Linked DNA regions of Homo sapiens: region 1 is linked to region 2. Evidence: fine-mapped expression QTL. A gene starts in region 2. The other region holds a variant in brackets. All regions are shown on one strand. Distances are between the middles of the regions. Region 1 overlaps SCML4 (Scm polycomb group protein like 4). Region 2 holds the start of SCML4 (Scm polycomb group protein like 4).

The links. PIP is the estimated chance that this variant, and not a neighbour inherited with it, causes the effect. A credible set is the group of variants that fine-mapping cannot tell apart.
Region 1: its variant is the best candidate, but not a certain one, in a credible set for the expression of SCML4 in whole blood (TOPMed, PIP 0.51).

Annotation. Positions count from the first base shown.
Region 1 is chr6:107,785,686-107,791,070 of GRCh38, reverse strand. The region is part of intron 1 of SCML4 (Scm polycomb group protein like 4); the gene reads left to right. Among named protein-coding and RNA genes, the nearest start is that of SCML4, 36 kb to the left of the region's middle. The variant C/A (reference allele first, on the strand shown) is at 2,149.
Region 2 is chr6:107,822,084-107,827,468 of GRCh38, reverse strand. It overlaps SCML4 (Scm polycomb group protein like 4), which reads left to right and starts at 3,156. Exons shown (of 8, transcript NM_198081.5): 1 at 3,156-3,343. RefSeq lists an enhancer at 5,004-5,073.

The sequences.
Region 1 (5,385 bases), 36 kb after region 2:
TTAGACGGAGTCTTGCTCTGCTGACCAGGCTGGAGTGCAATGGTGCAATGTCCACTCACTGCAACCTCCGCCTCCTGGGTTCAAGCAATTCTCCTGCCTCAGCCTCCTGAGTAGCTGGGACTACAGGCATGCACCACCATGTCTGGCTAATTTTTGTATTTTTAGTAGATACAGGGTTTCACCATGTTGGCCAGTCTGGTCTCGAACTCCTGACCTCCCGTGATCCGTCCGCCTTAGCCTTCCAAAGTGCTGGGATTACAGACATGAGCCACCATGCCTGGCCTGTTTGGTGCTTTGACCTTTGTGGGACTTGTTGGTTCCTGCAGTAGGTGTGGATGGTTGTCCTCGTCTGGCCATTCCTGATGCTGTGTGTGCCTTTCTGTTTGCACGCTTGTTTGACATCCCTTTGTATCTTCAGGGCCTGGGACAAATGCCTTGCATTTAGTAAGCGTCCAATAAATATTCATACAGATATGGATTTTCAAAAGGTAAACTGTGAAAGCTAATTAAGAATTGACTTAACGGCTGTTGCATGGCCCCAGGAGACCTTTGCGAAGGGGAGAAGACCTAGAAAATAATCCGGTAAGCCCCTGTTTGCTGGCTAACCCCCGAGGGAGAGAAAGCAGGAAAAAAGTGTTGTTATTTTTCCTTTTCTGACCTTTCTTTTTGCAACTAAGAAGTGGAAGTCCTCAATTGTATCATTGTATTGCTCTCTCTCCCCCTTTCTTTCTATGAGTCAATCAAACCATATTGGCGGAGGATTCACTGTATGCAAAGCCCCAAGAGGTCACATAGATTTTCACCAGGCAAGATATTGTCCATGGTAATACTACTGTTGACTTGTCTCAGGGTGATTGCAAAGCTTCCTGGCTTTTTGATCTTGAGAAGTCAGCTGGTAAAATGCAACATCTCCCACCCACCTCCAGCTAGAAACAGAAGCGCTGGGAGATGAAACTTCTTGGATCTCTCAGCAGCTAACCTCTCGTTGACCAGGTGCCAGTGCTGAAAGGCTGGACTAGACTGGACTTGTGCCACTTTTCACAAGATCTGGAGCCTTCCTGAGCTGTCATCTGTATAGATTTGACAGACTCTCCATCTATACGGTGGGAGTACGTAATAATATTTGCCTTAAAGTCTTGTAGTGAGAATTTAATAAAATAATATATGCATGTATGTACGTTTTATTAATTCATTTATTCACCCACTATTTGTTGCTTTGCTGGTCCTGTGAGCTGGGCCCTGTGTGCAGTGGTGTGTGTCAGGATCAGTGCCCACAGCCCGGGGGACATGAGTGTGAGGGGAGAGGCCACCAAGGCTGGGAATCCTCCCTTCCACAGGTGTGGTGCTCTGAGGGAAGGAGGACTTGTTCAGGGACGACTCAGAGATGAATCTGGTGGTTTTGCTGTGGGCCGGCAGGCCTGGTCTCCAGAGATTCTGTGTTTGTGATTATTGGCCACTGTCTTTGTCTGGACTAAGTGTGTGTGGTGGCTGTTTCTTCCTGTGTGACCTGCCCATGTATCCTAGGCTCCTCGATTCTGGGAGACTGCGATGGAGAAGCTGTGTGTCAACGACGCAGGACATAGGGAATTCAGCCGTGCGCTGTCTGCACACCACAACATGCCAGAGGAACCCGCCTGGAAAGGGACCTGTGTTTATGCGGGGCAGTGGGGAGGCAGGATGGGCTGGGACTCAGAGGAGATGTGATGACCAGAGGTGCTCCGCTTCCCTCCCGTCTACCCACAAACATCCAAGGAAGGGATCTTTCTGGGTTCATCTTCACGTCCCTGTGCTCTGCTTAGTGTCTGGCCACTCTAGGTCCCCAGAAAATATTGTCAAATGATTGAAGGGATGATTGAGGAGAGAAAGAGAATAGTCCACTTCTGGCCAGTACTTCCCTTTGAGGGTTAAGAATTCGCTTTTGACCTTGGTCTTGCAGTACTTGTGAAGCCTGCGGAACCAACAGGCTGTGTAAGAGTGGCCACTGAGGGACATGGGCCAGAGAAGTAGTGACCTGCCCACAGTGTCCCTGGTGGAGCAACGCTGGGACTGTGCCTATCAGGACAGCTGAGAAGCCTTTGTGATACTTGGTGACCAGAAGCAAATTAGGCTGCATTTTGTCTTCTTTCCTGTAAGTCAGGGAAACACACA[C/A]TGGGGGAGAGTTTTCCTATGCTCCTTGCTCCAGCCCCCACTCTTTCACCCATTCTGTTCTCAGACCTGGTGACATTTTACTTTCCTAGTATTTGAAGACCCTGGGCTTTTTCTTTGTGAAATAAGAGGGGAGAATAAACCGGTGTGTAGTGACTGTACATACAATGATGGCGACAGTGTCAGGCACCACCAGTACCCTAGCCTTCCTCCCTGGCTCACAGCTTTCTAGAGAGCTCTAAAACCCTCCCTAATACCAGGGTGTTGGTAGCAGCTTCACCCCCATGAGATGGGCATCATCTAGATGGGAGACAAGACTAACGTGATGCTCTGTAGAAAAAGATGAGGAATGTCGCATTGTCTGGATGGGTGTATTTCTTTTGCTTGGCAAATAAAAAGAAATGATCTGTCTTTATGTTGCCTTTAGGGACACTGCAAACAAGATGGTTGGAAATAGAGTTTCTATTGACTCTCTGTTCTCTACAAAGAGAACAAAAGAAAATAATTACCCAGGAAGAATAGTAATTTGTATCACACAGGGTTTACCAATTATGACAGGATCTCATGGTCATTTTCTCATGGGATCCTTATGGCAGCCTGGTGACATGGCTCTGGCAAGTACTGAAGTCTCCGTTTGACAGGGCAGGACACTGATACCCAAGAGTCACTCTGCTATTCTGCTTACTGCCCACTGCAATGCAAAGCCAGCTTTCCTGGTCCTTGCAGAAACATGGTCCTTGTCTATTGGGGAAGCAAAGCTTTCAGCTACCAAATGTGGAGAAACAAAATCAATTTCACGATAACTGTGCACTTGCTCTTGCCTTTTACCTCTAAATGCATCTTTCCTTGACCTGCACAAGAGGTGAAGGCATTGGTCCTGGTGCTGTTTTCATGTTTATTTTCTGCTGATTGTTCCCTGGGTCCGAGGTGGTATCTTTCTTAGACAGTTCTTGGAGGGCAAACATTGGGTTGCTATGTGTCATTACATAGCAGTAACAAAGTGTTTTAGATACTTCAGTGTTTTCCAAAGAGTATCATATGAAGGTATCATAGTTACACATTTCTGTACTTCAGGATGAGCATCTATATGCCTGAAAATCTGTGTGAAAATGTCTGTTGGAATTCCTTGAAGAATTCACAACCCCACCCCCGCAAGACTGGTGAATGGATTCCTACTTGGCAAGGTGCCGACTTGGAGAGTTGTGATTTGTGTTATTTGAATCTTGTTGCTTTATTGTTGAAGTTGTAAGAATTTTTATTAGCAAAGTATGTGAAAGGAATCTAGCTATACTGTTGGTTTATATTACAAAAAATCATCTTGAAAAGAGAATTTGCTTTATAGATAAAGATTGAACTAGAAACAACCCAAACACCAAACCACCAGCGCTTTCTCAAAACTAAATGTAAAGTATAAATAGAGAACAAAACAGGAAATAGTGGTTTGCAAAAATATATATATATGTGTGTGTGTAGCTGCATTCTAAGGTGTCTTTCCTTACACTGTGGGATGTGAGTGCCGAGGCTGAGTGACAGTCGCAGCTGCTGCCTCCTTAGCAGAGACAAGTGTCTCGCAGCAATTGCTGTCTTACTGCTGCCTGCAACCACTCTTTAGCAATCTTCAAAAAAAAATTCGGATCAGCTCTGTAGGCAATAAATAATTATGTTGTTCTATTCACCCGGTTATTTCATGCCCAGAGAGTTGACTGGGTTACTTTATACCATCCAAGCTTTCATGTTGTATCAGTCCCATTTCTTTATATCCTATAGAGACATGGAGATGTGGCCTGAAGGATCAGATTTCTCTCCTGTCCCCCAGCCAGCTCTGTTGCCAGCTCTCTGAATTCTGTCCAGGGCCGACACAGGGAGACAGCTGTAGGGAGTTATGCAGAGAGCTCTGGGGTGGAATCTACCCTCTGCCCACTAATGGGTGATCTCATGTAGCCTCTCTGGGCCTTAGCTCCTCATCTGGAAATCCGAGGACAGTAATGCTTATCTCAAAACCATTGTGAAAATTAAAAGAGATGAAGTAGGCGAAGAGCCATCTTGGCAGCATGGGATGCTCTGCGTCTTATTGCAGTGGCCTTGTTGTTGGAAAGTGGTTGCTGAGTCCTCTGCAGGTAAATTTCTGAGCCTGGTGGCCACTACTAAAAACAAAAGACAAGTACCCTGGGCTGGACTCTGCTGCCTCAGTGCTAAGGAATAGGAGGAGTCCTGGAAGAGGGCTGGGACACTGATCGTCCATTCATTTGTTCATACATCATTTATTTAATAAATATTTGTCAATCCTTAAGATGTGCCAGACACTGAACCAGGTGGGGATAGATGGAAGAAGACACAGAGCCTTCTCCAAGGAGCTCAAGCATATTAGAACAGAGAGACAGGGATGCCAATAAACAGAATAACATGTTGTAGGTGCTGTGATAGAAATGGGTCAATTACAGCCACAAGAAAGGATGTAGAATAGAAAGATTCTGTCCAAGTAGCAATTTTCAGGCAAGACTGTGGGGGAGGAGCCTCTGGAAAGCCACTTCCTTGAGAAACACAAATTTTTGTAGGTGGCTCCTTTTCATCTAGCCAGGGGAAACCACTCACATTTCAGGCAGAAACTGACACTGGTGGGAGAGAGGATAAGCTCCCTCTTGCTGAGCAAAGAACAAGTAATGCCTCTTCTTTGACTCCAACCTTAGACAAAACCATGAGTGGGGGCCCCAGATTAGAAGCTTCTGAGACCTGCTGCGATCCAACTCACTTGAGTTCTCATTGTAGCTTTGATTCAGATTAGAAGCAGGTCAGTTTCATTATTCCAGAAGACTTTCTTAGACTTGGAAATAATAATGAAAGCCTTCTGGAATGAGCTAGGAGTAGGGAAAGTGGGACTGCAGGGCTGCACACAGGGGAGCCTTCAGCCTAGCTGTCCTAGATGTCCTCTAGGGTTGGTAGCAAAATGGGAGCACCCCAAGGCCCCCTTGGAGTACTAGGCTGCAAGGAGCTAGTGAGGGTGAGGTGCGGAGGAGCTGTCAGGCAGGGTATGCGCCAGGCTCTGCCCCTCCCTTGGCTGTTTTGTGGCCCTGGAAAACCTCAGCCTCGTAGGACCTCTCTTTTTTTCTGAGCATCCTGGGCTCTTAGGTCATTATCCGTGAGATACTAGTTGCTTCAGAACTGTCCTCCTGCCATATCATGTACAGATGTCTCCTCTCCCTTACTAGCTATTTAACTTCTCAAAGTCAGGAGGGGAGTGCA
Region 2 (5,385 bases):
ATTTAAGTTATTAAAAGCTATGTTCCTGGTTGCATGAAGAAAGAAATCCCAGTAAGTTTAAATATATATATTTTAATAAATGTGTGTATATACAGATATATTTAAATAAAAAAATTTAAGTAAAAAATATAAAGATATATTTAAATAAAAATATACATTTAAGTAAAAAACAAATATATATTTAAATAAAAATGTAAATATATATTTAAATAAAAATGTAAATATATTTAAATAAAAATATAAAGATATATTTAAATAAATATATTTACATATTTATTAAATTTATTAAATTACATAATTTAATGAATAATTTATTAAATATCAAATATTTTGAATAACATATTTAAGTAAATAAATATTGTTTACTTAAATATATACATATATATAAAAAATATATATATTTTTTGAGACGGAGTCTCGCTCTGTCGCCCAGGCTGTAGTGCAGTGGCGTGATCTCGGCTCACTGCAAGCTCCGCCTCCCGGGTTCACACCATTCTCCTGCCTCAGCCTCCCAAGTAGCTGGGACTACAGGCGCCTGCCACCACTCCCAGCTAATTTTTTGTATTTTTAGTAGAGACGGGGTTTCACCGTGTTAGCCAGGATGGTCTCGATCTCCTGACCTTGTGATCTGCCCACCTCAGCCTCCCAAAGTGCTGGGATTACAGGCGTGAGCCACCGCGCCCAAGCAATCCAGCTTTTGTTGATTTCAATTTTAGGCTTTATTACCAAGTTGACCTGTTAGATGACAATGGGTGCTTCCCACATGCACCCACCTTGAGGACAAGGACAACAGTAGCCCATCTGGGAGGAGGCAAGGAGGTTGGGCCTGAGGATCAGAGTGAGAAACCCTCACAGAGCTGGGTAGGAAAACCAGCAACTCCTTTCTTATGGGTAGATTCTGCCAACCCTTTTACTTCTTTTACAGGACTTGGAGATTATTTCTGATTACTTAAGAAATGTTATTTTTTTTAATCCTAAGAAACATTTTAGAGTGAAAATTGGTCTAATGTCTCAGCCCATTCCAGGTGCTTTAAGCTCAGTGTAGTGTGGCATGTGTGAGGCCACGGGTGTGAGTATAATAACCGCTGTCGCTGGGACAGAGATGCTGTCCAAACTTAAATCATCCATCTTCTTTCCTTTTCTTTCCTTTTCTTTTCTTCTTTTTCTTTTCTTTCTTTTCTTTTCTTTTCTTCTTTTCTTTTTCTTTCTTTTTTCTTTTTTTTTGAGATGGAATTTCACTCTTGTCACCCAAGCTGGAGTGCAATGGCGTGATCTCAGCTCACTGCAACCTCTCCCTCCCAGGTTCAAGCGATTCTCCTGCCTCAGCCTCCCGAGTAGCTGGGATTACAGGCAAGCGCCACCAAGCCTGGCTAATTTTTGTATTTTTAGTAGAGATGGGGTTTCACCATGTTGGCCAGTCTGGTCTCGAACTCCTAACCTCAAGTCCAGGAGTCCCAAAATGCTGGGATTACAGGCATGAGCCACCACACCTAGCCCATCCATCTTATTTTCTTTTTTTTTTTTTTTTTTTTGAGATGGAGTCTCGCTCTGTCACCCAGGCTGGAGTGCAGTGGCACGGTATCGGCTCACTGTGAGCTCCGCCTCCCGGGTTCACGCCATTCTCCCTCCTCAGCCTCCCAAGTAGCTGGGACTACAGGCGCCCGCCACCACGCCCAGCTAATTTTTTGTATTTTTAGTAGAGACGGGGTTTCACCATTCACAGGATGGTCTCGATCTCCTGACCTCGTGATCCACCCGCCTTGGCCTCCCAAAGTGCTGGGATTACAGGCATGAGCCACTGCACCTGGCCCATCCATCTTATTTTCTTTTCTTCTCCTCTTCCTCCTTCTTTAGTGAAATCAACTTATATGAAATGAAAATGCAAACTACCAAACCTGCCTTTTCCCATACAAAACAACAAAATTTGATGATTAAATGAACTAAAGTAGTGAATTTCTTCTTGCTCAATTAATTACAAGGCTTTGACTTAAAACAATTTTTTATATTTTCATAATAAATTTCAGAGGAGAGATTTCTTATGTACTTCTAATGTGACTCTACACATATATTTAGAGAAACCTCAAGTTGTCCATTGCAGTTTTTTTCACTCTCAGTAACTGGCCAGGTTGTGGCCTAAGCCTTCGTTAGCCCTGGTTGATATTTAGTCCCGGCTAAATTTGTTTGCTGCTCATCCCTAGGAGTAAGCCACATGTTTGTAGAATGGATGTTTCATCTTGTAGGAAATACCTGTGAATATGCCAATATCCCAGAGTGGATGAAATGGGCAATGGGGAGCCCTGCTCCACTTTACAAAAAGAAAGGAAAAGAAAAGATCCCTTCGCCGATATATATTGATTTGCTGCAGAAAATGCAATGGGGCATGGGAATGAATAGTCACTCTTGCCCTGTTTCTATCCTGTGCAGGTCCCACCACGTTGAGGTGGGTAGAGATGCTTACACACACACACATACAGGCCTGGAGCCAAAGTCAGGGCCGGCTTTAATGAACTGTACACATATGTTGTGGGCAGCCGCTGATTTAATATGTACAACCATGGTGTGTGCACACACCTGGATAGGCACACTGCTCTGGGAATCACACAGGGTCTCCTGAACAATGATGCTATTGTAATATTTCTTTTTGTTTTATTTGTCCAAAGTCAAACATTCACTCTGTCAGATCACCAGTGTCTTATAAGCCTGGTGTTGGCCCACACTGCTGCAGGATTGGGACAAAGAGACGATGTTACAGTCTGGTTTCTATGGCAACAGAGGAGGGGTAATGAAAACTGAAATGTTGGAAACACCCATTCTAACCATTGTGACATAATTCAGGTTATTACAAGGATGTAACTACCAAAGAAGCAGAAGTGTCATTACCTTGCAGCTCATGTCGACAAAAAGCTACACTGCACATTTCTCTTAGGCTGCTAAGAGGAAGGAAACACAAAACACACACACACACACACACACACACACACACACACACACACACACACACACACAGAGGCCTCGTTTTCTGCATGTAAAATGTGTGTGTTCTTTAAAAGCCAGTGGTTGGCTGGTTTTCCGGACATGATGTGGTTGAAGCTGTCATCGTAATGGAAATTCATTGCTGTAGCTATGGTAAATCGAGTTTTCTGCCTGTGCTGAATGCATTAGTCTAATGAGATGTTTGCAGCTGGAGCGCAGGGCTGCTGGAGACTAACTGTGAGCTACTAACACGGGTGGAAGATAGCTTTTGCAATACTCGGTTTGCATGTGCTGAAAGTCATCTGTCTTCTGAGTCAACACTCCCGACCTGGTAAACAACCTGCTCAGGGCTCTGGTGAACAAGCTGTAGGTAAGGGAGATGCACAATTGGAGGCGTGCCGTTGACACGGGATCTTTCTCTTGTAACTGTCAGCATGACAGGTTACCTGTTTCAGTTTTTTCTGGGTTGCATGCCTACCTCTATGGCAACGCACAAGAGTGTCCTGCACTAAAACCACTGAGTCCAGTAGGTAAACTTTAGTTCCTCATATGCAAAGTACAGCATTTAATTTATTAACCAGATCTCAGAGGGGAAAATGTAACATTGAATTATATAGTTTATAAATTTGGGCTATATACATGTTCATTACTCTTTAACTCTGCATTTAAATACCTAGAAAGTTATTTTTTTCCAAATGTGAACTCAAGTAACCGGTTAGTTATTTTTTCCCTTCACGATAATTTTGCTTTGTTTTGCTTTTTAATTTTAAAAAAATTGTACTATGTCTTGGGATAAAAATATTTACCTAAAATTTGGTTATTAAAATTGGTATGTTATGAACATGTAAAAGTGTTTTTTTTCCCATTTAATTTTATTTCAAATATCCCAGGTAGAATATTTCACATGTCTTTGTGCTGGTTTTTCCTAATTTATGAGGCATAAATAAGAATAATATTTACTGCTAGTTTCTGGTTTTAATTCGTTTTTTGGGAAAAAAACTGGTGACTATGGAGTATTAGCGGCAGTTTTCCCAAGCTCAAAATCACCTCCTTCCCAGGTGGAGCACTGTGACTTGAACCAGCTTCCACGTGCTCCTCCCAAAGCATGAGGGGTCCTCTCCAGGTTGATTGCTGGCTGGACAGGAGCGGTGGATGAGGCCAGGGTGCAGGCTGCTGAGCTGTTTTGCTGAGTTGAGGTGCTTGAGTCAAAGTTCTTTCCACTATCTGTGATCGTGAACGAGAGGTGTCTCCTCGTGTTGTCTCTAGATTCCATGACGGTACTCATGAGGGTTAGACAATCAGTGGCTTTCTGAGAAAGTGGTTTTTTACTGATCTCAGACACTACAGTACTTGAGAAAGTAATCCAGGCACTTCAGAATCAGGGTATTTGTTATATGCTGTTTTTCTTTCTTTTCAACCAGAGGAACCATTTTTGAAGAATGAGGGATATAGCTGCTTTTTTTCTCCACTTTTTTTTTTTTAAAGCAAAATAGAATATCTGGAGTGAAAGCATAAAAATAACTACAAAGGAATTCTTAGTGTGTTAAACTATCTGGGGGGTATAATATTTGTGTGGAGCATTTTTTGTGTTGCTTGGTAGAACTAGTCTGATAAAATGAGGGGCTGTTTGAGCAACAGCAGCTGGGTGAAGATTACCTAGAAAATCGGTACTGCGTGATCGTCTAAACTCAAAAGGTTAATGTAGAATCTTCAGTTTTAGGGAAATTGGTGGCTTCACAAACTATAACTTTTAAACAGGCTTTTTGACAGAATTTTTAAAAAATATGAATGTGTTTTCTTTAGCTCTTTAAATTGTGTACGTAGATGAGCTCTGAAATATTTTGGTAAATTCATCAGTTTGCTTCATTTGTGGAATTATAACAAAAGTGCAAAGCCCACAAAAATCCAGTTCTTTCATGTATAACATGTTTACATTTCTTCCCTGTGTCCCCAAAATTACTTTTATTTTGCTGCAAAAAAAAAAAAAGAAAAGAAAAAAAGAAAAGAGTAAATGAACGGTAATAGAAAGACAAGAAAACAATAAGCGAAACGAGTAAGTTGCTTTTCATCATTTCTTTGCTTTTGGTGGTGTGTTTTCGAGGCGAGGGAAATCAGCAGAAGCAGTTTCACTTTCTGGTTCTTGACTCCTGGGGGTGAGGGTGAAAGGCTGTCTCCTCTAGCAAGCAGCAGGTAAGCTAAGCAGCTCAGCCCACAGAAAACAAGCCAGACCCAAATACTGTCACTTGCTGCAAGAACTTTTATAATGAGAGTTCAAAACAATATTGACTTTAAAAAAATACTCAGTAACACTTTCCTATTAAAAAATTCAAGCACTACCCCAAAGTACAAAGATAGACTTTTTTAATTTTTAAAATTTGAAATGATGAGAAAATCATCTCTGCTGTTTATGTA